Linked DNA regions of Homo sapiens: all the other regions are linked to region 2. The links come from fine-mapping of genetic effects on gene expression. A gene starts in region 2. Each other region holds a variant in brackets. All regions are shown on one strand. Distances are between the middles of the regions.

The links. PIP is the estimated chance that this variant, and not a neighbour inherited with it, causes the effect. A credible set is the group of variants that fine-mapping cannot tell apart.
Region 1: its variant is the best candidate, but not a certain one, in a credible set for the expression of DNAAF5 in whole blood (TOPMed, PIP 0.55).
Region 3: its variant is the best candidate, but not a certain one, in a credible set for the expression of DNAAF5 in gastroesophageal junction (GTEx, PIP 0.81).
Region 4: its variant is the best candidate, but not a certain one, in a credible set for the expression of DNAAF5 in uterus (GTEx, PIP 0.65).

What each region holds. Positions count from the first base shown.
Region 1 is chr7:745,973-753,782 of GRCh38, reverse strand. All of the region lies in intron 4 of DNAAF5 (dynein axonemal assembly factor 5), which reads right to left. Among named protein-coding and RNA genes, the nearest start is that of PRKAR1B, 23 kb to the right of the region's middle. RefSeq lists an enhancer at 759-1,958. The variant G/A (reference allele first, on the strand shown) is at 3,520.
Region 2 is chr7:721,748-729,557 of GRCh38, reverse strand. It overlaps DNAAF5 (dynein axonemal assembly factor 5), which reads right to left and starts at 2,859. Exons shown (of 13, transcript NM_017802.4): 1 at 2,243-2,859. The coding sequence starts at 2,837. PRKAR1B (protein kinase cAMP-dependent type I regulatory subunit beta) reads left to right here and starts at 2,277. Exons shown (of 11, transcript NM_001164760.2): 1 at 2,277-2,348. RefSeq lists silencers at 1,997-2,076, 2,117-2,226, 2,287-2,336, 2,587-2,786.
Region 3 is chr7:695,442-703,251 of GRCh38, reverse strand. The region is part of intron 2 of PRKAR1B (protein kinase cAMP-dependent type I regulatory subunit beta); the gene reads left to right. Among named protein-coding and RNA genes, the nearest start is that of DNAAF5, 27 kb to the left of the region's middle. RefSeq lists enhancers at 5,838-6,338, 6,339-6,839. The variant C/T (reference allele first, on the strand shown) is at 3,839.
Region 4 is chr7:758,414-766,223 of GRCh38, reverse strand. It overlaps DNAAF5 (dynein axonemal assembly factor 5), which reads right to left. Exons shown (of 13, transcript NM_017802.4): 7 at 4,328-4,471; 8 at 2,250-2,418. Among named protein-coding and RNA genes, the nearest start is that of PRKAR1B, 35 kb to the right of the region's middle. The variant G/A (reference allele first, on the strand shown) is at 4,650.

The DNA of each region.
Region 1 (7,810 bases), 24 kb before region 2:
GAGAGACACGCCTGCGAAGCCGTCGCCATATGATCAGAGAGACACGCCTGCGAAGCCGTCCCCATATGAGAGAGACACGCCTGCGAAGCCGTCCCCATATGATCAGAGAGACAAGCCTGCGAAGCCATCGCCATATGATGACAGAGATACGCCTGTGAAGCCGTCCCCATATGATGAGAGACACGTCTGTGAAGCCGTCCCCATATGATCAGAGAGACATGCCTTCGAAGCCATCGCCATATGAGAGACACGGCTGCGAAGCCATCGGCATGGTGGGGGTGACAGCTGCGTCCTTCGCCCGGCTTCCTCTGCTCCTCTGCACTGCAGCCCCCAAGGCACCCCGGCACCCCTGGATCTGTCCCGTGACTGAGCTGCACTTTCTAGAGCCTGACACAAGTGGAAGCCTCTCGTTCACTCTCCTCCCTTCTCCGCTTCTTTCACTCTGCATCGTTTTCTGAGGCCCGCCTGTGCCCGCTCCTTTCTGAACCTGGGAAGTGGCCTGTTCTGGGGAGATGCCAGTTTAGTGCCCGCTCCTCTGTGGAGAAGCATTCAAATGGTGTCCAGGGCAAGTCTGTGTGGCCTGGGCTTTCACTGTGCCGGGACAAATACCAGCTGTGGAAGGGCTGGGCCACAGGGAAGGTGCACGTTTAACTGTTTTAGAAACTGTCCAACCATTTTCCAAAGTGTTTGAGCCAGTCCGCGCTCCTTCCCACTCTCAGCGGCACGCGGTACGCTCAGTCTTGAATTGAAAGCAGTCCGAGAGGCACAGTGGCATTTCCGTGTGCTTTTCCTTTGCATTCCCCGATGACTAACGACGCCGAGCGTCTTCTTCACAGGCTTGTTTGCCGCCTATCTTCCCTGGTAAAGGGTCTTTCCAAATTGTTTTCTGCCCATTTAAAAAAATGGATTGTTTTCCTGCTGAGTTTCAAGAGCTCTTCCTATACTCTGGAGATAAATCCTTACATACATCATCTCCAAACATCTCAGTCTTTGGTTTGTCTTTTCGTTTTTTCAACAGGCCTTTGAAAAAGCAGAAGTGTTCATTTTGATGAAGTCCACACATTGCTTTACCCTGTTACAGAGCGGTCTTTTGAGGACGCACCCAGGGAAGCGTGGCCCGGCCCACGGTCACGAAGCCTTCGTCCTAGCTCTGCGGTCTTTTGAGGATGCACCCAGGGAAGCGTGGCCTGGCCCGCGGTCACGAAGGCTTCGTCGTCACTCTGCAGTCTTTTGAGGATGCACCCAGGGAAGCGTGGCCCGGCCCGCGGTGACAAAGGCTTCGTCATCACTCTGTGGTCTTTTGAGGACGTATCCCGCGAAGTGTGGCCCGGCCCGTGGTCACGAAGGCTTCGTCGTCACTCTGCAGTCTTTTGAGGATGCACCCAGGGAAGCGTGGCCCGGCCCGCGGTGACAAAGGCTTCGTCATCACTCTGCGGTCTTTTGAGGACGTATCCCACGAAGTGTGGCCCGGCCCACTGTCACAAAGGCTTCGCCCTAGCTCTGCGGTTCTGGGCTTTACCTTCAGATCCCTGACGCATCTGGGGTTAATTTTTTGACTCCAAGTTCACTTTCTGGTGTATGAGTGATCCTATCATTTACAGTATCCTTATTAAAAGATGCCATTAAATGGTCTTTGAGCCTTCATCAAGTCAGTGGTCCGCGTGCGGGCGCCTGTTTCTGGACGCTCTCGTTCTGCTCATCGGTCTGAAAGCCAACACCACGTGGCCCCATGACTGTGGTTTTGTGAGTCTTGCACCCAGGACCTGCTGCCATTCAGCTTCACTCCTCCCCAGTGTTTCGGCAGCTGTGGGTCCTTTGCACGCCCACGAGAATTTCACAATCAGTTTGTCGATTTCTACAGAAAAGCCTTCAGGGACTTTGATGAAAAGATTCTGATCTTCAAAATTCAGGCCGGGCACGGTGGCTCATGCCTGTAATCCCAGCACTTTGCGAGGCCAAGGCAGGCGGGTCACCTGAGGTCAGGAGTTCAAGACCACCCTGACTAACATGGTGAAACCCCGTCTCTACTAAAAATAGAAAAAATAAGCCGGTCGTGCTGGCGAGCGCCTGTAATCCCAGCTACTCAGAGGCTGAGGCAGCAGAATCACTTGAACCCAGGAGGTGGGGGTTGCAGTGAGCCAAGATTACACCACTGCACTCCAGCCTGGGCGACAGAGTGAGACTCCATCTCAAAAAAAAAAAAAAAAAAAAATTCAGAACAACTGTAAAGATAGAAATGAAACCATGATATGTCAGGATTTAAAGGGTCTTTTTCTATTTTTAGAGAAAGGGTCTCACTCTGTCACCCAGGCTGGAGTGCAGTGGTACGATCACAGCTCACTGCAGCACTGACCTTCTGGGCTTAAGTAACCCTCCTGCCTCGGCCTCTCAAAGTGCTAAGATTACAGGTGTGAGCCACTGCATCCAGGCTAAAGGGTATGTTTTAATAAGAACAGCTTGTACCAGGACACCCCATTTTTAACCTTTTTCTGGTTATTTTTCTGTTTTTATCCTGTATTATGGAATTAGTTCCAAATAATTAAAATTCTGCTGGCTGTTTAAATGATCCTGTCATCATTTTGTAAAAAACAAAAAAGCCAGGGTGCAAACACACCTCTCTTCGTTTTTTTTTGAAATGCAGTCTCGCTCTGTCATCCAGGCTGGAGTGCAATGGTGCGATCTCAGCTCACTGCAACCTTCACCTCCTGAGTTCAGGCAATTCTCCATTCTCATGTCTCAGCCTCCTGAGTAGCTGGTACTACAGGTGCATGCCACCACACCTGGCTAAGTTTTGTATTTTTAGTAGAGATGGGGTTTCACCATGTTGGCCAGCCTGGTCTTGAACTCTTGACCTCAGTATTACAGGCATGCGCCACCACGCCCAGCTGCACCTTTCTTCCTGATGACGATCCGCTCTGGAAAGTTTGCAAAATGAGAGATGCGTGACCAGGAACAGCCGGGGAGGGGTCTGCTGACAGCTGAACAGAGCTTTGTGGGCACCTGGGCTTCTGGGTGTTTCCAAAGAAATACTGGCCGGTGCTGGGCAGGGGTACGCAAGGCCTGGACACAGGCTGGGACTGGTTTAAGGCCTGTTAGGAACTGGGCCCCACAGCAGGAGGTGAGCAGATGGTGAAGGAGTGTGACCGCCTGAGCTCCACCTCCTGTCAGATCAGTGGCGGCATGAGATTCTCAGGGGAGGGCAAACCCTCCTGTGAACTGTGCGTGTGAGGGACCTGGGTTACGTGCTCCTTATGAGAATTGAATGCCTCATGATCTGAGGTAGAACAATTTCAACCTGAAACCACCCTGCTCCCTGCCCCACCCATGGAAAAATTGTCTTCCACAAAACCAGTCCCTGGTGCCAAAATGGCAGGGGACCGCTGGTACAGTCAAGCGTTGCTGAACGGTGGGGGGTGCGTTCTGGGAAACACGTCATTGGGTGATTTCGTTGCCGTGTGAACGTACTACAGTGACGTACACAAGCCTAGATGGCGCAGCCTCCTACGTGCCTGGCTGTGC[G/A]ATGCCTGGGCTGTGCGATATAGCCTGTGAGGCTCCTAGGCCACGAACCTGTGCAGCAGGTGACTGCACTCAACACGCAGAAACTGTAGCACAGACAGTGAGTGAGTGTTTCCAAACACAGAAAAAGGAGAAACACAATGTTACTATCAGAGGGGACCACCCTCCTCCACGTGGTCCTTATGGACTCAAACGCTGTTACTCAGCACATGCTTCTGAACATGGTTCTGAAGCCTGTTTTTCTATACTTAATATTATAGCAGACATAGGCTGGGCACCGTGGCTCACACCTGTAATCCTAGCACTTTGGGAGGCCAAGGCGGGTGGATCACCTGAGGCCAGGAGTTGGAGACCAGCCTGACTGATATGGTGAAACCCTGTCTCTACTAAAAACACAAAAATTATCCAGGTGCGGTGGTGCGCGTCTGTAATCACAGCTACTCGGGAGGCTGAGGCAGGACAGTAGTTGCCTGAATCTGGGAGGCGGAGGTTGCAGTGAGCTGGGATCGCACCACTGCACTCCAGCCTGGGTGACAGAGCAAGTCTGCCTCAAAAAAAGAAAAAGAAGTTCCTTCTTCTGTAACACCCCCGGCTAACTCAGAGTGGGCCAATGCTCGTGGGACCTTGCTGGCTTCAAACAATGTTAACCAGCTTTTCCAGCCCATTTGCACAACGTAACGTTTCTGACAATTTCCATTCAAGCTTCCATCTTTCCAAACACATGGATGAAACACACAAGCAAAGCAGAATGGGTGCGAGCTCCAAGGCAGAACAGGAGAATGAAGGGGGAAGGCTGTCACGTGGCAGCGTTCATCCACAGGGAACCCTGCTCACTTCTAAGTCAGGCTTTAAGAAGAGCCAACTCTGTCCTCCTGTGTGAAAAGCTCTGGCCGGCCACTCACCAGCATCGAGACGCTTTCCTTTACGCTCAGGCATTGCCAAGGAAAACAATCTTAACAGAGGGATAATCTCAAAGCAGAAAGGACTCTGGAGCCGCTGTCACCAAGCCATCTGCTGCTGGCGGCTGGCAGTGTGATTGTCAGATACACACCAGGCGTGAACGTGTGCTTCCGTGTGAGAAGGGCACTCTGTTCAGGGAAATGACCGACTTGAGGACGGTAAGTGGTGCCCTCCCAACCCTCCCAGCACGAAGCTTGGTTTTTAAGGCGGAGGTTTCAGTGCTGTTAATGGAAACTTACGCTGTGTCTGCAAAGCTAACAACAAATTATATGGTACGAATTATATTTCCACATGGTGTGTACCTTATTTTCTTAGGAAACAGGAAAACTGGACTCTGATGAAACTTCAGATCCAGGCCCATGTGAATTCCTTATTGATAGGTCATTACCTCTGAGCACCGTCTGCATTAGCAGTGGTCTGAAAATATTACCGAACTTTGCCTGTTCACGCACTCGGCAACCCAACCACACGGTTGGACTGTCCGTTCTTGCTGGTAAGACAGGACACGCAGCCACTCATCAGCTCGCTGGGTGCTCACAGAGCCACTAAGCCTGGCTCACCGCCTCTGGGTGCAGAGGATGGCAGCAGACAGACTGGCCCCTGGAGCGAGCGGTGAGGTGAGCACAGGGCCCGAGTCCACCGAGGAGAAGGAGCACCTCCACTGTGGTAGGGGGCAGGAGGAAACAGAGCAGGGGGGATGGGGGCGGCAGCTGCCGGAGCTCTGAGGAGAGGAGCGGGAGCTGGAGCTGAGGCCTGGCTGTGGAGCCTAAAACAGTCTGATGAGGGACCTGCATCCAGAGCACGGAAGGGGTCCTCAAACTCCGCACTCAGAAACACAGAACTCGATTTAATGGATGGCAGTTCTGAATGGCCACCAAAGACGACGTACGGGTGCACAGAAGCACACCACAGCACAGGAAAAGGCCCCAATGTCCTCTCATTAGGGAATCGCAAAGTAAAACACCATGGGCCACCACTGCACACTAGCCGGACACGCTGAAACCAGCAAACCCCACCAACACCGTGGGCCACCACTGCACACCAGCCGGACACGCTCAAACCAGCAAACCCCACCAACACCGTGGGCCACCACTGCACACCAACTGGACACACTGAAACCAGCAAACCCCACCAACCCTGTGTGACAACACTGCACACCAGCCGGACACGCTGAAACCAGCAAACCCCACCAACACCGTGGGCCACCACTGCACACCAGCCGGACACGCTCAAACCAGCAAACCCCACCAACACCGTGGGCCACCACTGCACACCAACTGGACACACTGAAACCAGCAAACCCCACCAACCCTGTGTGACAACACTGCACACCAGCCGGACACGCTGAAACCAGCAAACCCCACCAACACCGTGGGCCACCACTGCACACCAGCCGGACACGCTCAAACCAGCAAACCCCACCAACACCGTGGGCCACCACTGCACACCAACTGGACACACTGAAACCAGCAAACCCCACCAACCCTGTGTGACAACACTGCACACCAGCCGGACACGCTGAAACCAGCAAACCCCACCAACACCGTGGGCCACCACTGCACACCAGCCGGACATGCTGAAACCAGCAAACCCCACCAACACCGTGGGCCACCACTGCACACCAGCCGGACACACTGAAACCAGCAAACCCCACCAACACTGTGGGCCACCACTGCACACCAACTGGACACACTAAAAACAGCAAACCCCACCAACCCTGTGTGACAACACTGCACACCAGCTGGATACACTAAAAACAGCAAACCCCACCAACCCTGTGTGACAACACTGCACACCAGCCAGACACGGTAAAAACAGCAAACCCCACCAACACCGTGGGCCACCACTGCACACCAGCCGGACACGCTGAAAATAGCAAACCCCACCAACACCCTGTGCCACCATTGCACACCAGCTGGACACACTAAAAACAGCAAACCCCAATACCGTGTGTCAACACTGGACACCAACACCGTGTGCCAACACTGCACACCAACCGACACACTAAAAACAGCAAACTCCACCCCACACGCTGGCCTGACTGCAGCACCTGGAAATCTCATCCAGTGCCCGTGGGGATGCGACATGGCGCGAAGGGTGTGGAAAACAGTGTGTGGTGAGTTTCTAACAAAGTAAGGACTGTACCTATGGCCCAGCAACCCCACGCCTGAGTGTTTATCCAATAAAACACTCTCACAAAAACCAGTCTGCAAGTGTTTACATCAGCTTTACCTGTGATGGCCAAAAACTAGAAAGGACCCGAATATGCCCCTGCTGGTGACCAGATGGTCCATCCACGGGAGGGAACGTGACTCACGCGAAGAAGGAAAGTGCTGCAGACACAGGTGCCATGCATGAGCCTCCGACACAGAGAGGAAAGAGCAGACGCCAGCGGCCACGCTCCCACAACCTCATGCAAGTGACATCCTGGAAGGGACACACAGGACGCAGCCCACAGCAGCAGTGCCAGGGCCCATGAGCAGTTCTGGGCGGTGGAGATGCCCACATGCAGGGGACAGAGGCGGTGCTGCTCAAAACTCACAGAGCTGCAGCCCTGAAGGGTGAATGCAGCGTGGTCCCGGGGGAAGGGCTATCACAGACCCTGGGCAGGGTGGGCAGGGGGTGGCAGGATGGTAAGGACGTCACAGACCCTGGGCAAGGTGGGTGGGGGGTGGCAGGACCGTAAGGAGGGCGTCACAGTCCCTAGGCACGACGGGCGGGGAAAAGGGACGACACAGAGCCTGGGCACGGCGGGCGGGGGAAAGGGATGACACAGACGCTGGACAGGGCAGGACGGTAAGGAGGGCGTCACAAACCCTGGGCATGTTGGGTGGGGGGCAGCAGGACGGTAAGGAGGGCGTCACAGGCCCTGGGCATGTTGGGTGGGGGGCAGCAGGACGGTAAGGAGGGCGTCACAGGCCCTGGGCATGTTGGGTGGGGGGCAGCAGGACGGTAAGGAGGGCGTCACAGGCCCTGGGCATGACGGGCGGGGGAAAGTGAGGACACAGAGCCTGGGCCCAGCGGGCAGGGGGGGGCAAGACAGTAAGGAGAGCGTCACAGACCCTGGGCACGGCAGGCGGGGGGTGGCAGGACGGCAGGGAGGGTGTGTGCTTGGCAATACAGGGCCAGTGCAAACTTCTGAGGAAGAGACTCAAAAAATCTTCTGATCTGACATTTAAAATACTGTAGAAAAAAATCTGAGAAATCGTATTTAAAATTCAAATCTACAGACTGGAGAAAAGTAATTTGAGGAGAAAATGCCAAAAATCTAACACAACGTAGTGCTTATGCGACTGACTGACTGTCATTCAATTCTAAATTTACTCTGCTCCAC
Region 2 (7,810 bases):
CTTCCTCTCCTACGCCAGGTCCTTGCTGCATGAACAGTACACAATCCAGGCTGCCAAGGAGAGCTCTGTACCGCCCGGCACAGGAAGAGGCTCAGGGACAAGCGTCCCACCCTGATGACACCTGTGCAACCCAGAGGCTTAGGAGGACCAGCGGGGAAAGGCTGGGGGTGCAAACCCATTGTGGCTGAAGACCAGAGAGCCTGGACCTGCTGAAGCCAAGGTGGAGGCCTGACGGGGACACTGGCCAGAGGAAAGAAGCCGAGCCCAGAAGACAGAGGCGAGGCCACACTCCCAGCCCCACCTGAGACGAGACCCCAGGCTCCTCCAGGAAGCTGGGCCAGCACCACTCCAGGCAAAGCCACTGCACTTCCTATTTGTAAAGTCCCCGCAGAAAGTCAGAACAAGAGGTGGCAGGCGCCTGTAATCCCAGCTACTTGGGAGGCTGAGGCAGGAGAATCGCTTGAACTCAGGAGGCGGAGGTTGCAGTGAGCTGAGATCGCCCCACTGCACTCCAGCCTGGGAGACAGAGTGAAACCCTGTCTCAAAAAAAAAAAAAAAAAAAGTCAGAACCAAAGGGTCTCTGGCATCCAGGCCGCCTCTTGCCTCAGCTCTGCACTACTTGGGGCCCGTCTGGGAAACGGCTATTCCAGTGAGACTTTGGGTGAGCGCCTCAACCTCTCTGCCGTTGCCCAGTGTGACCGAGACCAGAGGTGAGGCCCCCCACCCAGGGGAGAGGAAGGCCAGAGGTGCTGGAGATGAGGGGATGCTCCAGGCAGAGGCACAGTCCCTCACCCCACAGCAACCAGTGAGCACATACCCCAGCAGGCTGCGCTTGGGGCTGGGGCACAGATGGGCACAGTGCTGTCCTGTGGAACCTACGGTCCAGGGAGGGAGCTCGTGGGGCTGATGTACAGACTGGGTAGGGAAGTGGTTGAGGATGAAGAAGAAATACATTAAATGCCAGGAATTCTCAATGGCCATGTCCATCCAGCCCAAGGTTCTTCCCCAAGCTCCACAGGAGTTCTGGACCATGTGAAATCCAAAGTTAACCAACGTGGAAATCTCGGCATTTCCCCAAGTCCAGCTCTTCCTCTACTTCTGGAATCTATTCTCCACGCAGCTGCAGTGATCTTTTAACAACCTGAACTCGGGTCTATCACTTCTATTGACACCCCCTGCACTTCCCACTACATTCAGACCATCACTGGGACATCACTGGGACGGCCTGAGCTGGCCAGATCCCTCACTGCTTTCCTGCTCCCTACCGCCCACGGATTTATAGCATCAGTGTTCCCTCCTTCGGAAAGCCTTCCCGCCAGCAGGAAGCAGGCGCCTGCTATCATTCCACATCCCAGCCAGGGGAGGGAAAGGGCAAGACCCTGCAGGAATGGCCAGCTAAGGAAAGGGAACGACCGGATCAGATCAGAGCTCTAAAAAAGATGGGGAACGTTATAAAGTGGAGGGGAGAAGCGGCCTCCTTCCACTTAGGACAGTGGTCCAAGCCAGAGCGGAAAGGCAGGGGAGTAGGATGAATGGGACAGAAAGTGAAATGACCAGAGCAGAGTCTCAAAGCGCGTGCCCTCAACCAGGTGCAAGTCCTGCAAGCCCCCGAGGGAAGGAAAGGGGGCAGCTATCAGGGCACACCCCACCCCAAACCGCCTAACAGGAATTTCTGCGGTGGTTTCCAGGTATCTGGACAGAAGCGCTGGCTCGTGGGCCCGGGTGGGGTGGAGGGGGCTCAGGCAGGGAGGAGGGTGGGAGGTGAGGGTCGCGGGAGGGCGGCGTGCAAGGAGGAGGATGGCACAGGATAGGCAGGTGGAGGGGGCACAGGGAGCAGGCAGGTGGGGGGCGGGGCTTGGGGCGTGGAGGGTGGAGGCGGGGAGCAAGGGGACAGGGGAGTGAGGTGAGTGAGGGCCAAGCAGGAACAGGGGTCACGGGGCAAGGAGCACGTGGCAGCGCAGGAAACAGGTACATGGGGGTAGAGGACAAGGGAGCAGCTGAAGGGCGCGTTGGTGGCGGGACGTGAGGCAGGGGAAGCAGTGGTGGTGGGAGGAGGGGGCCGGGCGGGGTGCTTTGGGGCAGGCGGGTGGGGGAAGCGGCGCATGGGGGGTCCGGGATGTTGGGGGGTGCGGGCGTGGAGGGGGGCGGGGCCGAGCCGCGGGGGTTGTGAGAGGGGCCGCGGAGGTGGAGGTGGGGGTGAGAGTGTGGGGTGGCGTGTGGGAGCGGGGCCCGGGGTGCTCACCGGGCGTGGCCTGCGCCAGGGCGGCGGCGCAGCTGCAGCTCTCGCGGCGCACGGCGGCGAAGGGGTCGAGCAGGGAGCAGCGCAGCGCGCGCAGAGCGTCGTCCAGGTGGGGCGCGAGCGCGGCGCCGCACAGGTCCACGGCCAGGCCCAGCAGCTGCACAAGCGCCAGGCGCAGCTCCTCACAGGCCTCGGGCGGGCGGCGCGCGGGCACGGGGCCGGCCAAGCGCGCGGCGAGCGCGGGCAGCAGGCGCGGCAGGGCATCGCGGGGCCGCGCGGCGCGGCGCAGGCCCAGATCCAGCAGGTGCACTGCCAGCGCGCGGCAGCCCTCGGCGGGGTCGCTCAGGCAGCGCAGCAAGCGCGGCAGCAGTAGGCGCGCCCAGGGGCCCTGGAAAGCGGTGGGGTCGGCGGCAGGGCCTGGCTCCTCCAGCGCGCGCCGCAGGGCCTCCAAGGCGCGCCGCCGGCCCGGCTTGCTGTCGGCCTCCAGCCCCGGCAGCAGGCGGCTCAGGGCGCGGCTCAGCTCCACCGCCTCAGCCGTCTCGGCCCCCTCAGCCGGGTGTGGGGCCGCCACGGCCTCCGCCACCCCCAGCGCCGCCATCTTGCCCGCGTCGCCGGTCACTAAGGGGAACAGCGCTTTCGCGACTCTCAGCGCAGATTACGGCAGCACTTCCGGTCCGCGCTGCGGGCGGGGCGCCGGGCTACTTCCTCCCCGCCGGTGCGCACGTGGGCCTGTGCTCTTGTCGTGCTCGCCCGCTGTCCCCCTCTGTCGCCGGAACCCCCGCCAGCCTGCCTGCTGGGCCTTGTCCTGTCCCCATTGTACAGATGGGGAAGGTCTCGGGAGGGTGCAGCTCGCCCGGGATGCGGGTCCCGGGCTATAGGCCTGGGCCTGCCCCTAGGGAAGCCTGCCCTGCAGCCTAGGGGGCTTGGAGAAGGAACCTGAGTGGTCCCGCCTGGGACCAGGGTAGCCGGGAAGCCCCTGTTTGAGCCGCCTAGAGCCCCTCTGGCTTTGGGAAGGTCCGTTCCAGGAGGGAAGGACGCTGGTTCTGTGGACTGGATCCCCCTGTGGTGTAAGACAGGTGCCTGGTCTGGGCTTCACGTGCAGCCTGTCATTAGATCTCAGGCGTAGCCGCCCAATAGGTTCGCCTTACTCGCTGCCCAGGTAGAGCCAATTTATCAAGACAGGGGAATTGCAATAGAGAGTTTAATGCATGCAGAAACTGGCTGCATGCAGAAACTGGCTGCATGCAGAAACTGGCTAAAGGACACTGGAGCTTTATTGCTCAAACCAGGTTCTGAAAATCCTGAGATGGGTCATCTAAGGATAATTAGGCAGGTAGGGGGCCAGGGAGAGGGCAGTGCTTATTGGTCGGGTTGGAGATGAAACCATGGAGAGTCAAAGTTGATTCTCTTGCTGTCTTCTGTTCCTGGGTGGGATCACAGAACTGGTTGAGCCAGATTAGTGGTGTGGGTGGTGGCACCTGGTGCATCAGAATGCAGAGCCTGAAAAATATCTTGAGCACCAATCTTAGAGTTGATGATAGTGGTGTTATCCTAAGGAGCAACTGGGGAGGTTTGGAATCTTGTGGCCTCTAGCTGCATGACTCAAACCACAATTTCTAATCTTGTGGCTCATGTGTTAGTCTTACAAAAGCATTCTGGTCCCCAGGCAAGAAGGAGGTTGGCTTCAGGAAAGGGCTGTTATCATCTTTGTTTCAAAGTTAAACTATAAACTAAGTTCCTCCTAAAGTTAGCTTGGCCTACTCCCAAGAAATAACAAGGCAGCTTGGAAATTAAAAGCAAGACAGTGTTTCACAGTAGTGACCTTGACTGTGGACTTGAGTGGAGACAGAGGCGCCTAAACAGCTTGGAGTCGGAGTTGCTGTGAGCCCAGCCTAGAACGCGAGTTTGACAGCACTCACTGCAAACCAGGAGTCCCCAAGTCTGGTTAGCCAGGCACTTCTCATCTGTGACCATGCACTGAGTTTTCTAAAGGCAGAATGTGTGTAATTTTAGGACAGAACTTCAAGTTTGACCTTCTTTTTTGTTGTTGATCTTCGTGTTGCAAAATGGTGGTGTTTGTCGGTACGTCTTTTTTTTTTTTTTTTGAGATGGAATCTTGCTCTGTCGCCCAGCCTGGAGTGCAGTGGCGCGATCTCCGCTCACTGCAGACTCTGCCTCCCAGGTTCATGCCATTCTCCTGCCTCAGCCTCCCAAGTAGCTGGGACTGCAGGTGCCCACGACCACGCCCAGCTAATTTTTTGTATTTTTAGTAGAGACGGGGTTTCACTGTGTTAGCCAGGATGGTCTCGATGTCCTGACCTCGTGATCCGCCCGCCTCAGCCTCCCAGAGTGCTGGGATTACAGGCGTGAGCCACCACGCCCGGCCCATCAGTACTTCTGAAAAGTTGTTATGTAGCATATTCAGTAACCTTCATTCATTGTTTCCTCCAACAGGCATTTGTTTGACCAGGCACTGTCTGCAACATGTGGGACAGGATGACAATGATGTAGAAACTGGCCATGGTCCCTGCTCTCCCAGATCTTAGGGTCTTGCAGGATGAGATAGCCCTTAATGGAAGGATAAATTAGTATGTGTTTAACCGTGGTGGTCCTGAGAGAATGAGTGTCAAGGGATGTTGAACTAGACTTTTAAGGCTTCCCTGAACAAATGGTAGCAGAGGTGAAATATGAAGAATAAGTAAACACAGTGTATTAGTCCATTTTCACGCTGCTAATAAAGACATGGCCGAGACTGGGTAACTTATACAGGGAAAGGTTTACTGGACTCACAGTTCCACATGGCTGGGGAGGCCTCACAATGATGGCCGAAGGCGGGAAGGAGCAAGTCACATCTTACATGATGGCAGCAGGCAAAGAGAAAATGAGAGAGCCTGTGCAGGGAAACTCCCCCTTATAAAACCGTCAGATCTCGTGAGACTTATTCACCATCATAGGAACAGCACAGGAAAGACCTGCCCCCATTATTCAGTTACCTCCCACTGGGTCCTTCCCACAACACGTGGGAATTGTGGGAGCTACAATTCAAGATGAGATTTGGGTGGGGACACAGCCAAACCATGTCACATAGCCAGGTGAAAGGGCGGAGGTGGGAGACGGGGAGTGTTGGAGAGAGAGGAAATAGCATGAGCAAAGGCCTCATGGGAGTGTTACGGGCTGAATGGCGTCTCCCCAAAATTCATATGCTGAAGTCCTAACCCCCATAGTTCAGGAAGTGATCCTGTTTGGAGACAAGGTCTTTGCAGACGTGATTGAGGTGAGATGAGGTCATGAGGTTGGGCACTCATCCAATATGACTGCTGTCCTCATAAAAGGAGAAATTTTGGAGATAGACGTGCATACAGGGAGAATGCAGTATGAGCATGAAGAGAGACCTCAAGAGGAGCCAGCCCGTACCCTGATCTTGAGAAATCAAATTTGTTTCATTCAGCTGCCCAGCCTGGTGTGCTTTGTTACGGCAGCCTCAGGTAGCAAACAGGGAGGGAGGCTGACCCTGGTCACAGGGGAGCAGGCAGGGAGTGAGCAGATGGGTGGGGCCAGGCCATGGGGGCCTCTGTCCTAAAACATGGCAGACTGAGGATTTCAAGGTGGGAGCATTGGCAAGATCGAGTCTGCATTTTTCAAGGACCCCTTTGGCTTCCGTTGAACGGATTGGTCGGGAGCCCTGGGAAGGCTGTGGCAGTGAGTGCTGAAGACGAGAAAGAATAAGCGCTTGAATTACGGTGGTGGGACTTCACTTTTCCTTGCTCCTCCCATTGAAATACAACAAAATACCCTGCACATAGCAGGCGACGAGGAAAGGAGCTTGAGAGTTGACAGACGGGCTGGAGACCTCTGGACTGGAGGAATAGCAAGGTGGTGGGTCCCCTGGGTTTTCTTTTTCTCTCATGTGTTCCTGCACTAGTCCCCAGGGAAGCCTGTGGCCCAGAACAGCCAACAGGCACAGACAGAAATTCTCCAAGGAAAGCCTCCTCTCTCTGGCCAAAGCCCTGGGAAAGGGGACGCCCAACAGAGACCTAGAGGGTAGCTGCCACCTTCACCCCACAGTCTGCTTTCAGGGCCGATTTTAAAGCTGCTGCAGGTGCATTAACCTGTGCTGTGCAACTGGGGTTCGAGTGGACAGTCTGCACTGCACAGGTAGTGTCAGAGGAGCCTGAAATCTGCCCTTCCTCTCTTAGCACAAAGAGACCCAGAACGAGCATGTTCTGTCCTGACACAGCAAAAGGTAGCCCAGTGACACCAGGCGGCCCAGGGAGGTACCTTTCACCCCTGCAGGCAGCACCCATGGGAAATGAGCAGCAGTCCCAGGAGAGCCAGAAGAATAAAGCAGACGAGGAGGGCAGTGCCAGGGCTCTGAAGACGAAACTGCTGTTGGAATGACAGACCACAAAAACAGGCTGCAATCTACACCCTGGACCTGAACAGAGCAACTGCCTGGTGGAATAGAGTAGGACAAGGAGTCTGCAAACATCGTAACCCAAATGTCCAGGATACATCTGGAGATCACTTGTCATACCAAGAACAAGGAAAGCCACAACCTGAACATGGTAAGGTAACGGATGTAAATTCCAAGATAGGTCACATGTTGGAATCATCTGCCAAGAATTTTAAAGCAGAGTCATAAGAACCAGCTGGGCGCGGTGGCTCACGCCTGTCATCCCAGCACTTTGTGAGGCCAAGGCGGGCAGATCACCTGAGGTCAGGAGTTTGAAACCAGCCTGGACAACATGGTGAAACCCCATCTCTACTAAAAATACAAAAATTAGCCAGGCGCGGTGGCTCACGCCTGTCATCCCAGCACTTTGTGAGGCCAAGGCAGGCAGATCACCTGTGGTCAGGAGTTTGAAACCAGCCTGGATAACATGGTGAAACCCCATCTCTACTAAAAATAGAAAAATTAGCCAGGTGCAGTGGCTTACGCCTGTCATCCCAGCACTTTGTGAGGCCGAGGCGGGCAGATCACCTGAGGTCAGGAGTTTGAAACCAGCCTGGACAACATGGTGAAACCCCATCTCTACTAAAAATACAAAAATTAGCTGGGTGTGGTGGTGGGTACCTGTAATCCCAGCTACTCGGGGAGGCTGAGGCACGAGAATTGCCTGAACCCAGGAGGTGGAGGTTGTAGTGAGCCAATATCATGCCACCGCACTCCAGCCTGGGTGACAGAGCAAGACTCCATCTCAAAAAAAAAAAAAAAAAAAAAAGGCTGAAAACTCCCCCAATTCAATGAAAAACATAAATCCACAGATTCCAGAAGCTCAACAAGGCTTCATAGGACAAGCCCTCCAAAAACCCCATACTAAGACACATCACAATTAAACTCCTGGAAACTAAAGACAGAAGGAGGAAAAGTACTAACTGACAGAGAGAAATAATGCCTTGCCTAGAGAGGAACACCAGTTTGAATGAAGGCAGATTTCTTAACCAAAACCACAAAAGGCCAGAAAGAAGTGACCTGCCATTGTTCAACTGTAAAGGGGAAAGAGCTGTTGACTGTGAGTCCTCTACCCAGCAAAACTATCCTTCAGGAATGGAAGAGGAGTAAAGATGTTC
Region 3 (7,810 bases), 26 kb after region 2:
TGTGTTTTGGAGCTCTGTTATTAGTTGCATATACATTTGGGATTGCTATGTTTTCATGTGAATAAACCCTCTTATCATTATTCGATGTTTCTCTTTGTTCCTGGTAATTTTCATTGTTCTGAAGTCTGCTTTATCTGATATTAATACAGCCACATTATTAGGATTTGTGTGATTAATCTTTTTCTATCCTCTTATTTTAGCTATATCAGTAAAGTGTGTGTCTTATAGATAGCATATACTTGGTTTTCTTTTTTTATATGATTTGACAGTTTCTGTCTTTTAATTGGTGTGTTTAGATTATCCACTTTTTAAAAAGAAAATACTGTTTATTACTATATATGTAGTACATATAGTATATATAGTATAGTATATATTATGATGCATCTTTATTTATTTATTTATGTATTTATTTATTTACTTATTTTTTTGAGACGGAGTCTTGCCCCGTTTGCCCAGGCTGGAGTGCAGTGGCACAATCTCCGCTCACTGCGAGCTCCGCCTCCTGGGTTCACACCATTCTCCTGCCTCAGCCTCCCGAGTAGCTGGGACTACAGGCACCTGCCACCACACCCGGCAAATTTTTTGTATTTTTAGTAGAGACAGGGTTTCACCGTGTTAGCCAGGATGGTCTCGATCTCCTGACCTCGTGATCCGCCTGCCTCGGCCTCCCAAAGTGCTGAGATTACAGGTGTGAGCCCCACGCCCAGCCTATGATGCATCTTAATATGATTTTCTTTGAGTTTGTCTGGTTTCCCTTTGCAAATCTTGATGTTAATTTATGTCCTTCAAGAAATTTGGCAAGTTTTCAACCATTATTTTTTAAGATGGTTACTTTTATATATCTTACCTCATGTATAGATCATGTACATTTAATGTAATTATTGATATGGTTGGATTTAGGTCTACCATTTAATTATTTTTCTATTTGTTTTCTCTGTTTTTTTTCCTATGTTTCTTTTTTCCTTCCTTCTTTTAGATTATTTGATTATTTTTTAGTACTTACTGTCTTTTTTACTGTTTTTCTTTAAGTGATTGCTATAGGCATTATAATATACATACATAACTTTACACAGACTTTTTAGAGTTGATATTTTACCATTTCAAGTAAAACATACAAGTTTTCCATCACATAGGCCCATTTACCTTCCCCTTATTATTTCTGGTTGTTGTACGTATCATCTTTACACATGTTGAACTTTCCCCCACTCCCTTGACAATGTTATAATTTTTACTTTTAACACTTTCACGTATTTTCAGTAATTTAAGAGGGGCAAATAGTCTAGAAGATGTACCTGGGTATTTCCCATTTCTGTCACTCTTCCGTGGTTCCTGAAGTGTTTTTCTTTCCCTCTGTGATCATTTCCCCCACCAGCCTGAAGAACTCGCTTTAGCATTCCTCTTAGAGCAGGATTGCTGGTGACAGATTCTCAGTTTCCTTCATCTGAGAATCTCTCTGGTTTGCCTTCATTCCTGAAGGACAAGGACATGTTTACAGATACAGGATTCTGAGTGGAGAGTGATTTTATTTCAGCAGTTTAAAGATGTCTTCCCATTGTTCTTTATGGTTTCTGATGACAAATCAGCCTTTTGAACCCTCATTTGCTTTATGTTTCTTTTCTCTGGCTTCTTTCATGATTTTCCCTGTGTATTTAGTTTGTCAGAGTTTGAGTACAATGTGTCTGAGTTTGATTTTCTTTGAGTTTCTCTTGTTTTCCTTTGATCTTGAATCTGAATATTTATACCTTTCAACATATTTGAGAAGTTTTCAACCATCATGTCTTCAAATATATTTTTCTGTACCAATCTCTTTTTCCTGTCTTTCAGGGACTCCAGTGACATGAATGTTAGATTTTAAAATATTTTCCCGCAAGTCCCTGAGGCTCTGTTAAATCTCTTTCTTTCTTTCTTTTTCTTTTCTTTTCTTCTCTTTCTTTTCTTTCTTTCTTTCTTTTTCTTTCTTTCTTTCTCTTTCTTTCTTTCTTTTTTCCTTCTTTCTTTCTTTCCTTCCTTCCTTCCCTCCCTCCTTCCCTCCTTCTCTCCTTCCTTCCTTCTTTTCTTTTCTTTTTTTCAGAGTCTCGCTCTCTTGCCCAGGCTGGAGTGCAGTGGTGCGATCTCGGCTTACTGTAACCTCTGCCTCCTGGGTTCAGGAGATTCTCCTGCCTCAGCCTCCCGAGTAGCTGGGATTGCAGATGCGCACCACCATGCCCAGCTAATTTTTGTATTTTACTTAGAGATGGGGTTCAGCCATGTTGGCCAGGCTGCTCTCGAACTCCTGACCTGAGGTGATCCATCCACCTCGGCCTCCCAAAGTGCTGGGATTACAGGCGTGAGCCACGATGCCCTGCCCACCTGTCCTTTTGGTGGGATGATTTCTGTTGATCTCTCTTCAAACTCACAAGGTCTTTCCTCTGTCATATCCATTCTGCAAATGATCCCATCTAGTGAATTTAAGATTTTCTGTTACTTTATTTTTCAGTTCTAAAATTTGTATTTATTTTTCAGTTCTAAATTTATTTGGTAGTTCCTCCTCTTCCTACTCCTCCTCCTGTTCTCCTTCTCCTCCTTTCTTCTTCCTTTTTTTTTTAAATAAATTTGATTTCTTTGCTGATTCCCCCACCAATTCCAAGAGTATTCACCTTCACTTCATGGAAAATAGTTAAAATTGCTGCTTTAGAGTGTTAACCTGATAATCCCGTCATCTCTAGCATCTGAAGCTTGTCAGCCATGGGTTGTCTTTTCCTTTGAGAACTGGCCAGACTTTCCTAGTTCTTGATATGTTGAATAATTTGTCAAGGAACTGGATTATATCCTGGACATTTTCTATATTATGTTGTCAAGCTTTGAATCCCATTAAAATCCTATGGAGAGAGAATGTTGATATTTTTGTTTGTTTTGGCAGGAAATCAATTGACGAGGTCCATGCTGCAAGTTCTCTCTCATCCTTGGTGGGTGACGATGCCAACATGAGTTCCGTTTCCAAGCCTTTGGGGTGCTGCTTGGGCGCACCCTTGTGTGGGTCGCTTGGGGGCTGGTCTGGGACTTGGACATTGTTTTGCTTGCAGCTCAGTCCTCAGCACCTTTTCTGTGGTTCTCTGTGTTCTGTGCATACGAAACTTGGGGTTGAACCTCACACTCGTATCAGTTCATGGAATTCGGGGACCCCCATTTTGTCCTTTCTCCTCTGGGGTTTCTCTCACATTCTCCATGCAAGAGAGATCCTACCTCTGGCACACAGATATGCCTGTTTCTCTCCCTGCCGCCCCTTCCCCCGCCCACGCCGCTGTCCCCTCGGCTGAATGACTGCAGCAGCCTCTCTGCTTCCCATCGGGCCTCGAGCTCCATTTTCCATATCAGTCACAGCTGGAGCCATCTTCCAGAAACACAAATTGAACTGCTCCCCCTTCTTAAAACCTTCCCAAACCTTTCCAGTGCTCTCCTAACAAATCTAAGCTCCTTCCTGCCTCACGGGGTCTGGCTCCTGCTTGCCTCTCCACTGCAGCCCATGGCCACCCACGGGCTCCGGCCAGCACTGTCCTGTCACCTGGAACTTCCTCCCCACCCCTCCTGCAGCTGGCCGCTCTTCAGCACTTGCTTTAGGGCCACGGCTGCTTCCTCAGAGAGCCTCTCACCACGACCCTGTCTTGGGTGAGCTCAGAGGAGGAGATCTCGGCTTGAGCTTCAACCCCAAGTCCCAGCTCTGCAGGGAGGGAGGGTCTTTAGTGTCCTCTGGCCCTCCTAGCTCACTACTTGGTGAGCATGACAGTGTGTGATGGACTGAGGGGGTAACTGCCCACTCCTTCCTCCAGCTGTGACCTCTGCCCTTCCTACCCCGGCTGTT[C/T]CTGCGTTGGGAGGGGCCCTAACCGTCAGTGCCTTCCTGCTTTGGGACTCAGTGCCTCCCAGTGCAGGAACACCGAGATATGGCACGTGGTGCTTTGCATACTTTATCTCATCGAATTCTCACGCAGGCCTGGCCAGATGAGATATTTACATTCCCATCTTACAAATGAGAAAACGGGTGCTTGGAGAGAGAACGTGGGTTCCCCACCATCAGCCAGGGAGAGTCATGGAGCTGGGCGCAAACCCAGGCATGCCTCTGAGGCCACACCCTTCCCACCTTGCCTGTGGGCTCTGGCCCCTGGCGTGCTGGGGCAGGGTGCAGGGTTCTCCTGGGGTTGGCTTTGATGGTGGAACCCCCCCTTCTGCTTCTTTCTCATCCTCCGTCCTAGGAACTCAGGCTTCTCCGCCTTTGCCCTGCAAGGCTGGTGCCCCTGTGTGTGGCAGGCTGGAGCTGGGGTGCTGCCCTCCAGGAGGGAGAGGCTGAATCACCAGCTGCTGCTGCTGCGTGGGGAGAGGTGGGGTGGGGAGACAGCCGCCATGGTGGGTGAGGGAGTGAGTGCAAGTGTGTGTGAGTGACATGTACACACACTCGCCCAGATGCACACACATGCACACACAGGCAAGGATGTACTGTTGCCACCGAGGAGGAGGGTACGTGGAGTCGTGTGTGCACATGCATTAAAACACACGCACTTACCCAGATGCATAGCTGTGCGCACACCTGGACATACTCAGTTTACTCCGAGAGTGGTGGATGTAAGGGGTGTGTTTGCATGCATGTGTACACGCTCACACATGTACTTAACTAGATGTGCATATGGTCACATGCATGTACCTCTCTGGATGTGCACACACATGTACTTAGTTGGATATGTACATGTTCACACATATGTGCACATGCTCACGCACGTACTTACCTAGACACACACTAACACATACGTACCTAGATATGCACACACGCACACGTACTTACCTAGACACACATGCACACGTACTTTCCTAGATGTGCACACATAGAGTCATGCCATCTGCTTCTGAGGGTGAGCAGGGCTCTCGCCTGTGCTCACACCCTCCTGTGTACACTCTGCCCCTAGCCTCACTGGGACTTGCATCTTCATCTTCTATTTTTATTTTTATTTTATTAATTTAATTTTTAATTTTCTTAATATTTTTATAGAGATGAGGTCTCCCTATGTGACCCAGGCTGGTCTTGAACTCCTGGCATCAGGTGATCCACCTGCCTTGGCCTCCCGAAGTGCTGGGATTACAGGCATGAGCCATGGTGCCCTGCCCAGCCTGTTAATTTCTAATTCCCTTCCCTCCCCTCCCCTCTGCTCCCTTCCCTCCCCTCCCCTCCCTTCCCTTCCCTTCCCTCCCCTCCCCTCCCCTCCGCTCCCTTCCCTCCCCTCCCCTCCCCTCCACTCCCCTCCGCTCCCTTCCCTTCCCTTCCTTCCCTTCCCTTCCCTCCCGTCCCTTCCCTTCCCTCCCCTCCCCTCCCCTCCCTTCCCTTCCCTTCTCTTCCCTTCTCTTTTCTCCTTTCCTTCGCCTTCCCTTGTTTGCTATACTCTCTATGTGAGGCCTGGTACACAATAGGTGCTCAGTAAATGATTGAAGACCTGCGTTTCTCTTCCAACCTTGCCACTGAATGGTTGGGTTCCCCTGAACAAATCCTTTACCCTCTCTGGGCCTCAGTTTCCCCGCCTCATGGCTGGGGATGATTTGCCGCTGCTAGGTGGGCTTATGGGTCCTGGCCTGGGGTTGGTACCATGTGAGCCCTCTCCTGGAGACCCCTGGTCCTCAAATACAACTGGCGCTTGAGATTTAGGGTTTCACAGAGTGCAGAGGGGCTGTCTTAGGGCCGCTCATGGAACTGCTCGGAGGAGGTGGTCCAGAAACACCACTCATGCCTGCCCGGCACGCAGTGGATGACCCCGTGGAAGCCTAGACGCCCTCCGTTGAAGGCATCAGGCGGGGTGGATCAGCCGCCTCTCAGAAAACCCTTTCAGTGGGACGGGGCAGGCTGTGTCCCCACAGGAGCGAGAACCGGGCCGCAGGCAGGACTGAGGAATTCCATCTGCCTGTAATCCCTGCGTGTAGGCTTCTCTCGGGAGGATAAACTTGGGTCTAGGAAATCTCTTTAGATTCCACCCCCACCCCAGGCCCCGCCCAGATATTTTCTTTTCTGGGCTGGACGTCTGCACTTCATCCCCCTCTGTGGGACGGGATAGGAGCAGGACAATCCCCAGGGCCGGGTTCCTCGATTCTGGGGCACATTCTGGCCACGGAGCTTTCTGGAAACCCTGTTCCCACAGTGTTGTTACGAAGATGGCTTTGGCCTGGAAAGCCTGTCCCGGCCCCACGACCTCGACCGTCCTGCAGCTCAGACAATGCATCAGTATGAAAACAGGAGACAGGAAGTGGGGGCTGCAAAATGAGAGGCTTTCCCGGAATCCCAAGAGGGGAAGGGGAAGAGCAGCCTGGCATGTGCACAGGCAGAGCCCGTGAGAGGTCACCCCCATGCAGCCCTGGGGAGGGGCCCTGCTCGCTGTCCCCCTTTCTCCCAAGGCCTCCTGAAGCGGCCTGTGTGTATGGAACCACCTGTATCCTGCCTAGTCTGATTCTTCACCTGCCAAAGATGGGAAGTCCCGTCGAGCCTGGACAGGCAAAGCTCTTTCAGCCAAGAGACTGGGACCCCAACCTCGTTCCTTGAAGAGAAGCGGCTTCTGGTTCCTGCAAAGGGAGAGCCCAGGGTCCTTGCCGGAGCCGTGAGGCCCTGGGCCAGTCTCTCCTCTATGAAGTAAACTACTTTTAGCATGGATCTCAAAAGCTAAGTCCCATTGAGGCCGGGCGCGGTGGCTCACACCTGTCATCCCAGCACTTTGGGAGATGGAGGCAGGTGGGTCACCTGAGGTCAGGAGTTTGAGAGGTCAGCCTTGCCAACATGGTGAAACCCTGTCTGTACTAAAAATACAAAAATTAGCCAGGTGTGGTGGCTGATGTCTGTAATCCCAGCTACTCGGGAGGCTGAGGCAGGAGAATTGCTTGAAGCCTTGAGGCGGAGGCTGCAGTGAGCCAAGATCGCGACACTGCACTCCAGCCTGGGCAACAAGAGTGAAACTCCATCTTTCTTTAAAAAAAAAAAGTTCCATTGGGGCCGGGTGCTGTGGCTCATGCCTGTCATCCCAGCACTTTGGGAGGTCAAGACAGGAGGATCGCTTGAGACTAGCCTGGGCAACATAGCAAGACACCATTTCTACAAATAATAATAAAAAAATTTAGCCAGGCATACTGGTGGTGGTGCACCTGTGGTCCCAGATACTCAGGAGGCTGAGATGGAGGGATTGCTTGAGCCTGGGTGGTCGAGGCTGCAGTGAGCTATGGTCACGCCACTATACTCCAGCCTGGGTGACAGAGAAAGACCCTATCTCAAAAAAAAAAAAAAAAAAAAAAGGGTTGGGCGCAGTGGCTCACGCCTATAATCCCAGCACTTTGGGAGGCCAAGAGGGGTGAATAACGAGGTCAGGAGATCGAGACCATCATGGCTAACACGCTGAAACCCCATCTCTACTAAAAATACAAAAAAATTAGCCGGGCATGGTGGCAGGCACCTGTAGTCCCAGCTACTCGGGAAGCTGAGGCAGGAGAATGGCATGAACCCGGGAGGCGGAGCTTGCAGTGAGCTGAGATCACGCCACTACACTCCAGCCTGGGCGACAGAGCGAGACTCCGTCTCAAAAAAAAAACAAAAAACAAAAAAAACAAGCCCTATTGACCCCACCGGTGGCTGGCTGAGGCACTTTATTTGGTCACAATTCCTGTAGCTTGCAGACTCCAGTGGGCTCTGTCTTGTGACCTCGCCCATCTCACTTGAAACTGTTTCTGCCTCCACTGCAGTCTCCATCATGGAACACGAGGTCATCGTAATTCAGATGGCGCTTCACAAGTCTAGGCTTGGGAAGGCAGCACCACTGAC
Region 4 (7,810 bases), 37 kb before region 2:
TTGAGGCTGTGCCCCCGACTCCCAAGAGCACCACACATGTGTGCGCTCAGATGGGGCTCAGAGAACATAATCATCATTGGGAAATGCAGTTTTAAACCAGGCATGGTGGCTTATGCCTGTTAATCCCAGCACTTTGGGAGGGTGAGGTGGGAAGACTGTTCGAGCCTAGGAGTTTGAGGTCAGCCTGGGCAACATAAAGAGACCCCATGTCTACAAAAAATACAAAAATTAGCCAGGCGTGGTAGTGGGTGCCTGTGGTCCCAGCTACTCAGGAGGCTGAGGCAGGAGGATCGCTTGAGCCCAGGAGTTCAAGACTAGCCTGGCAGCATATATGACCCCATTTCTAGAAAAACATACAGAAGTAGCCAGGTGGCGTATGCCTACAATCCCATCTACTCAGGAGGCTAAGGCAGAAAAATCACTTGATCCCGGAAGTTTGAGGCTACAGTGAGCTGTGATCGTACCACTGCACTCCAGCCTGGGTGACAGCGTGAGACCGTCTCAAAAAACAAAAAACAAAAAAACCCATACAGTTTTATACCCAGCTCTTGACACTGAACGGCATACTGCAGTCTTCCTGCCTTTCAGTGAATGACAGGAGATGTGGGCCCAAAGAGATGTGTGTTCCAAGCTGCCAATCAGTTCCGCCAACACCATAAGAAATGCTTCTGCAAAGAGGAAGAACAGATGGTGGAGAAGCCACCAGAGCTGCAGTAAATGCAAGTCCTGGCTTCACTGCAAGCCACGTCTCTCGGGGTTTGTGTGCCCAATTTTCTGGACTGTGAGGTGAAGGCTGGAGTAATTTGGTGCAAGAGGTTGTTAGGAGTAACATTCAGTAAAAATCTGAAATGCAACACCCTGGGCCCCCATCCAAGAGGCCCGTGGGAGAGGGGCTGAGGGAGGCTCTGGAGTCGCTGCCTCGGGAGTTCTCTGTGCTCTGCCTCCTTGTCTGTGAAACGGGGTCACAGTTCCCACCACACAGGCCGGCTGTGAGGGTAGATGAGCTGACGGCCCTAAGGCTTGCAGAGCAGCGTCTGGCATAAAGTGTTTAATGCCCCGAGTGCACGTCAGCAATCGCCAGCTTTGTTTTTTGTTTGGTTTTAGAGACAGGGCCTTGCTCTGTTGCCCAGGCTGGAGTGCAGCAGTGCAGTCACAGCTCACTGAAGCTTCGAACTCCTGGGCTCCAGGGATCCTCCCGCTTCAGCTTCCTGAGTAGCTGGGGCCACAGGCGCACACCACCACGCCTGGCTAACTGTATTTTATTTATTTTTAAATTTTAGATTCAGAGGTGCACGTGCGGTTTTTTTCATCTTTTTGTAGAGATGAGCTCTTGCCGTGTTGGCCAGGCTGGTCTCGAACTCCTGAGCTCAAGTGATCCTCCCACTTCAGCCTCCCAAAGTGCTGGGATTACAGGCGTGAGCCACCACGCCCAGCCAGTATTTTCTTTTCTAATTTGGAAACAGTTTTGAATGCAACTGACAAAGAACAATTTTGGGTATTTTTCCAAGTCTCAGGAAAAAAAAGGTGAGTCCCTACCAGGCACAGAGATTGTGTAAGAACGATCTTAGCATCCTCAGATGCAGAGCACGACCACCCTGGTGCACACATCCAACAGGAGGCGGGGGCACTCGGAGCTGCAGGCGGGAGCGGGAGGGCCGGGGAGGCAAACGAGGAAGAGCTACCGCGGCGAGTTCACGGCCCGTGGAGCAGCGCGGGCCGTGTGTCCCAAGGCACTATGGCTGCTGAGCGGACGTCTCCTTAGGGTTCTGCAGTGGATCTTGCCCCGCGCTGAAGCCCCACTGGGCCACACTGTCCATCCCAGGAAAAGTGGCTGATCCGCAGGCTCAAAGAGAACCACAGAAATGCTGGTCTCAGAGGGGCTGGGGCTAAGGCCCCCATGTCACACACACAGCACCCATGCGGCTAGACATCTAGATTCTGCAACAAAATCCAGACGTATTTAAGAAGCCAGGCTACAAAACAGGCCACGGAAAAGCACACTTTGAAGGTTTCACATGAAAGCGTGTGCCCGGGCCAAGTGGAAGAGCTGCGTCCCACAGTCTTCAATGCGATGCTCCTTAAAATGCTGCTTCTCCCCAGGCAAGAGTGACTATTGGGTACTTTTAACAACACGCTTCAGTGAACCACAGCTCAGCTGGTCGGCGCTGGTACCTGCTGAGCACCTGGGGGAGCAGGTGTGTAGCCTGAGTGGGGCCAGGCACGGCACGCCAGCTGTCGGGACGGCTCACCTGACTGTGCGACGATGACACTGAACTGCAGGAGCTCCGGCGAGTGTGCGGTCCAGTCAAGGTGCGACGCGGTCACCCGCTCCAGGAGGGGACCAATGTGCTTGCGGTAGAGGTCCTGGCAGCTGCTGACACCCTCCACCATGGCCAGTGAGTCCATCGTCTCCTGTGCCTGGAGGTTACAAGTCAGAGACTGAGACAATTCCAACACTCAGGGCTCAAGCCTGCCTGCCTGCTGGGACTCACTATCCCCCTCACGCGTAAGAACCACACAGGCCGGGCCTGCCAGGATAATCGGGAGGGAGGCTGCCACAGGGAGCCCCGCCCAGGGTGCAGGAGAGCGAGAGCCGCGGGTGCAGGGCGAGACCCTGATCCCGTTCACACCAACGCCGTCTCTGCAGCGAATCATGAAGCAGGCACTGTGCACACTGGGATGCACACAGCACAGGTGGTCCTGGGGCTTACACGGACGTGGTGTCCGCCTGGGCAGGCAGGGCTCCTCTGAGGTGGTGAGGAGCAGAGAGGGGCGGGCAAGTGGCTTAAAGAGTTAAGCCCAGCAGACCAGACCTCCAGGTAAAAGTAACTGGGCAGACAGAGATGATAACCTTGGCCACCTTTTACTTTTAGCTGGCTGCTCTCCTTGGGGGCTTAGGAACAGAGGAAGGGCTGAGGCTCCCCGGTGGCCATTGCCCCAAGCCTGGAGTCTGAATCTGGGGCTACCTGGCTTCGTCCCCCATGACCAGCAGGCAAAGACTTTGCTTTTGCTGGTACCTCAGGCCCTAACAGTGACAGCATCTGCTGAGACACACGCCCCTTGGGAAGCTTGTTTTTAGAGGCCCCAAGAAGGAAGGGGAGGGCAGCAGCCTCCTCCACACCAGGTTCCCCATAGTACATTCAGGCCGTAAATCTCCCAGAGAGAGAATCTGCCGAGAGGGGCTGTCCACAGAGACAGAATGGGAGGAGGAACTAAGTCTCAGCTTCCAGAGAGGCAGACAGATACTGGGGCCTCCAGGGGCCCTAGAAGCCCATTAGAAGGTTGGGGTTAAAAGATTTTTGGGCATAATGGCCAGGTGCGGTGGCTCATGCCTATGATCCCAGCCCTTTGGGAGGCTGAGGCAGGTGGATCACCTGCAGTCAGGAGCTTGAGACCAACCTGGCCAACGTGGCAAAACCTTGTCTCTACTAAAAATATAAAAATTAGCCGGGTATGGTGGTGGGCGCCTGTAATCCCGGCTACTCAGGAGGCTGAGGCAGGAGAATCACTTGAACCTGGGAGGCAGAAGTTGCAGTGAGCCGAGATCGCGCCACTGCACTCCAGCCTGGGTGACAGAGCGAGACTCCACTGAAGAAAAAAGATGATTTTTGGGCATAAACAGGGAGCCCATGGGCGAGAAGTACTTCTGAACGCTGTGCTGCAATGAGAGCGGGAAATCACGGTATCTTCTCTCGACTCAGTCACACATGCACATGCACTTTTTTTTTTTTTTGGACGGAGTCTCGCTCTGTTGCTCAGCCCAGGCTGGAGTGCAGTGGCACGATCTTGGCTCACTGCAACCTCTGCTTCCCTGGTTCAAGCAATTTTCCTGCCTCAGCCTCCTGAGTAGCTGGGACTACAGGCACATGCCAACACGCCTGGCTAATTTTTTGTATTTTTAGTAGAGACGGGGTTTCACCATGTTGGTCAGGCTGGTCTCAAACTCCTGACCTCAGGTGATCCGCCCACCTCGGCCTCCCAAAGTGCTGGGATTACAGGCGTGAGATGCCACGCCCAGCGACATGTGCACTATTAAACCCTACTCAAGTGCGCAGGTTTAAAGGTTACGTCTTATTTCTTGTTTGCTTCTTTGCTGAAGACCCTAACATTAAACAGCTGTCTCCACTCCCTGATGCCAGAATACACTGGCAGCTGGAGAGCTGCCCCGAAGGCCGTTGCCCGGGGACTCACCCGCAAGGTTCTCAATCCCTGGTCTTTGCTGGTCAAGCACAGAGGGGATGCATAGGAGACAGTTCACCTCACTTAGAGATGCCTTCCAGCTGTGAGCTCCGCTAGGTCAAGCAGCAGCCACCACTGTCAGCCTTACCTTGTCCCTCAGGCCGGTAGCACCTGCGAGGGCCACTATTGTCAGCAGCACGTCCAAGAGCTGCAGGCTGGCCACGCCACAGTCCTCATGACACACAGACACCAGAGCCTGCACACACAGCAGCAGGCGCTCCAGGTAGAGGTCCTGGAAGAGACCGGCAGCACCGTCAGAGCTTGGTACAATTTGGTCGTGTCCCCACCCGAATCCCATCTTGAACTGTAGCTCCCATAATCCCCACGTATCCTGGGAGGGACCCTGTGGGAGGGAACTGAATCATGGGGGTGGGTCTTTCCCGTGCTGTTCTCTTGATATTAAGTCTCAC[G/A]AGATCTGATGTTAGTATAAAGGGCAGTTCCCCTGCACACTCTCTCGCCTGCCGCCACGTAAGACGTGACTTTGCTCCTCCTTTGCCTTCCACCATGATGGTGAGGCCTGCACAGCCATGTGGAACTTTGAGTCCATTAAGCCTCTTTTTCTTTATAAATTACCCAGTCTGTGGTAGATCTTTATTAGCGACATGAGAATGGACTAATACAGGGCTCCCGCTCCGGCCCCAGTGTCAGGGCCGACAGAGCCCGCCCGGGGCTCCTAGTCTACGGCTCACGAGGGGCAGCAGCCATGGGAGAGCCCTTGCAGGGAGAGCCCCCAGGCGCTGGAGGTAGGGTGCCGGCATGTCAACCATAAAAGGGCGTGCTTGTTGATGGGAAAACTGAACACAGACTGGGAGCTAAGGAATCTGTGCTTATTTTGTGAAATGTGAACAGGCACTTGAGCTATGTGGTGGAGAAGCTGCGTTAGTGATGCACACGGCACCTGTGAGGGAAATGACGGCGCACTGCATTATCTGCTTTACAACATGCCCAAGTTCTCCCCGCCCTCCAAAGTTAAAAAGAAAAGTGGCCCCAGGCAGGCAGAACACGCATGCCAAGGGCTGGTCAGCGCTGAAGCTGGCAGTCGCTCTGCTGCCTGCCCCTCTTCTGTGCATTTTTGAGCTTTTCTATAACACCAAGTTTTAAGACAAATAAAATTCTATGGCTTAACATGTTTACTGATTGACGGGGAGGTGGAGTCTCAGCTCTGCACCTACGGCTGCGCTGGATGAATGGCTTCCCCTCCCGGCTCCAGCCTCATCCACTGTGAATCAGCCAGGCTCTGAAGCCCGCAACACAGCAGGCGTGTGCTGGACCCAAGAATTCCTAAGGCTTTGCGTGTGCTTACTTCTTTCTAAATAAATTTTAACTTATTTTTTAGAGACAGGGTCTTGCTCTGTCGCCCAGGCTGGAGTGCAGTGGTGCAATCGTGGCTAACTGCAGTCTCAAACTCCTAGCCTTAAGTGATCCTCCTGCCGTGGCCTCTCAAAGTGCTGGGATCATAGATAAGAACCACCACGCCTGGCCTGTATTTACTTCTTATAACGTCCCTCTAATGTCTATTTTATGTATGTTTCATAAAGTACAGAGTGAGTCAGGACCGTGGCCATGTAATTTAAACACGTGATTTATCAACAGTGTACATATATTGGAGGCCTATGCTTAAAAACTGTTTTTACTAATGGGGGTGCAAGTTCAAAGAAGTTTGGTAATTATTTGGCTAGACAATGGGTTGGTTCTAAATTTCCTAATCAGCTCTAAAACTCTAAGCCTCATTCCCCACTGACGTAAATCATGGAAGACTAAACAAAACACTCCCACTGTACTACAGCAGCGTTCTGTCCTTGCACCCCGGCCCCGCCCTGACCCACAGAAGACACAGAGCTGCATGGCTCCATCTCCCTCGGAGCTGGAGGAGCCGCGCGGCCCCGTCTCCCTCAGAGCTGGAGGAGCCGCGCGGCCCCGTCTCCCTCGGAGCTGGAGGAGCCGTGTGGCCCTGTCGTGGCCCCAACTCCCACAGAAGCCACAGATTTGTTTTTATTCCATTCCTGATTTTTCCCACAGCCCAATTTCTCTAAGGCCTGTACTAACTGGCTGACTTCTGAGGACAATATCTGGCTAGTTTCTAGAATGACCTGTCATGTACATTTCAGGAGCGATCATCTTTTCGGTTAAAATCAAAAGGCAGGTGCGTTTAGAAGACACAGCCCCTCCTGGCTGACCACACCTCCAAGCACAGGAACAAACAGGGAATCAGGCATCCTTTGCAGCAAGCACCACCCTCCTGCCACGAACGCAGCACCGTCTCTGAGGAAGTGACAAGACTTCACATTTATAGATTTCTCTATATTTGACCAGACAATTTTCAGTGTCTGCCTACATACAACGCACACACACAGAACGAAAAAGAAAAAAGATACAGCAGGAAATAATTCTCAGTATTTTTTGAAATACTATTTCAAACATTGTTTTCTGAAACAATGTTATCTAAGACTGCAAAGGTTTTTAATTCAGAAAAGCACAAGAGACTCCTATTTCAACAATGGCAATGGCATCCCACAACTGCTGGCTTCCCTGTGTGAGAAGCAAATCGGTGAGTTACCCATTTCCTCACTCTAGACACCTGTCCTAAACTCCTTCCCAGGAGACTCCAGTTCCCGTCTGTCGAGCTCTAGGGGACCTACTGGGCCCGAGACACCTGGAAGTACCTACTGCTAAAGCCAGATTTCCTGTGAACCCCAGGGCAGGGAGTGAAGCCAGGCTCAGTTTAGAATACATTTACACGGACTTCTCTGTTTAAACACGAGCTTTTAAAACAATTTCGGTTTGTTCTTGAAAGACATTTTCAACCTGTTCTCATAGCTACTGGAGAATAGCTGTGGGAAACATAATCGACTTCCCAAATGACATGACACAAAGCCCGGCCGGCCGCGGGAAGAGCACAGGGGCGTGGGAAGAGCACAGAACCACGGGCCTGATTCTGACTGAGACCTGAGTACCTTCACCCTTTCTTGCCAAAAATTTAAGTCTGTTAAGGAGTAAAATGGGGCCAGGTGCGGTGGCTCACACCTGTAATCCCAGCACTTTGGGAGGCCGAGGTGGGCTGATCACTTGAAGTCAGGAGTTCAAGACCAGCCTGGCCAACATGGAGAAACCCCGTCTCTACTAAAAACACAAAAATTAGCCGGGTGTGGTGGTGCATGCCTGTAATCCCAGCTACTTGGGAGGCTGAGGCAGGAGAATCGCTTGAACCTGGGAGGCGGAGGCTGCAGTGAGCCAAGATTGCGCCACTGCATTCTAGCCTGGGTGACAGAGCAAGACTCTGTCCCAAAAAGTAAATAAATAAAAATAAATAAAAAAAAATTACCCAGGTGTGGTGGTGCACACCTGTAGTCCCAGTGACTCAGGAGGCTGAGGTGGGAGGATCAACCTAAAACAAAAAAATAAAAACAAGAAAGGAGTGAAATGTACGTCTTGGGTTTTCACTGTGACTGGCTCCTTGGCCAAAGGGCCGACACACGTTCGCAGCCTGGAAGGTTGAGGCTGGCTTCCCAGGGGTCCCGTGTGACTGGACTTTGTCAGAAAGACGTCTCTGTTTGAAAGATTGTGATTAAAT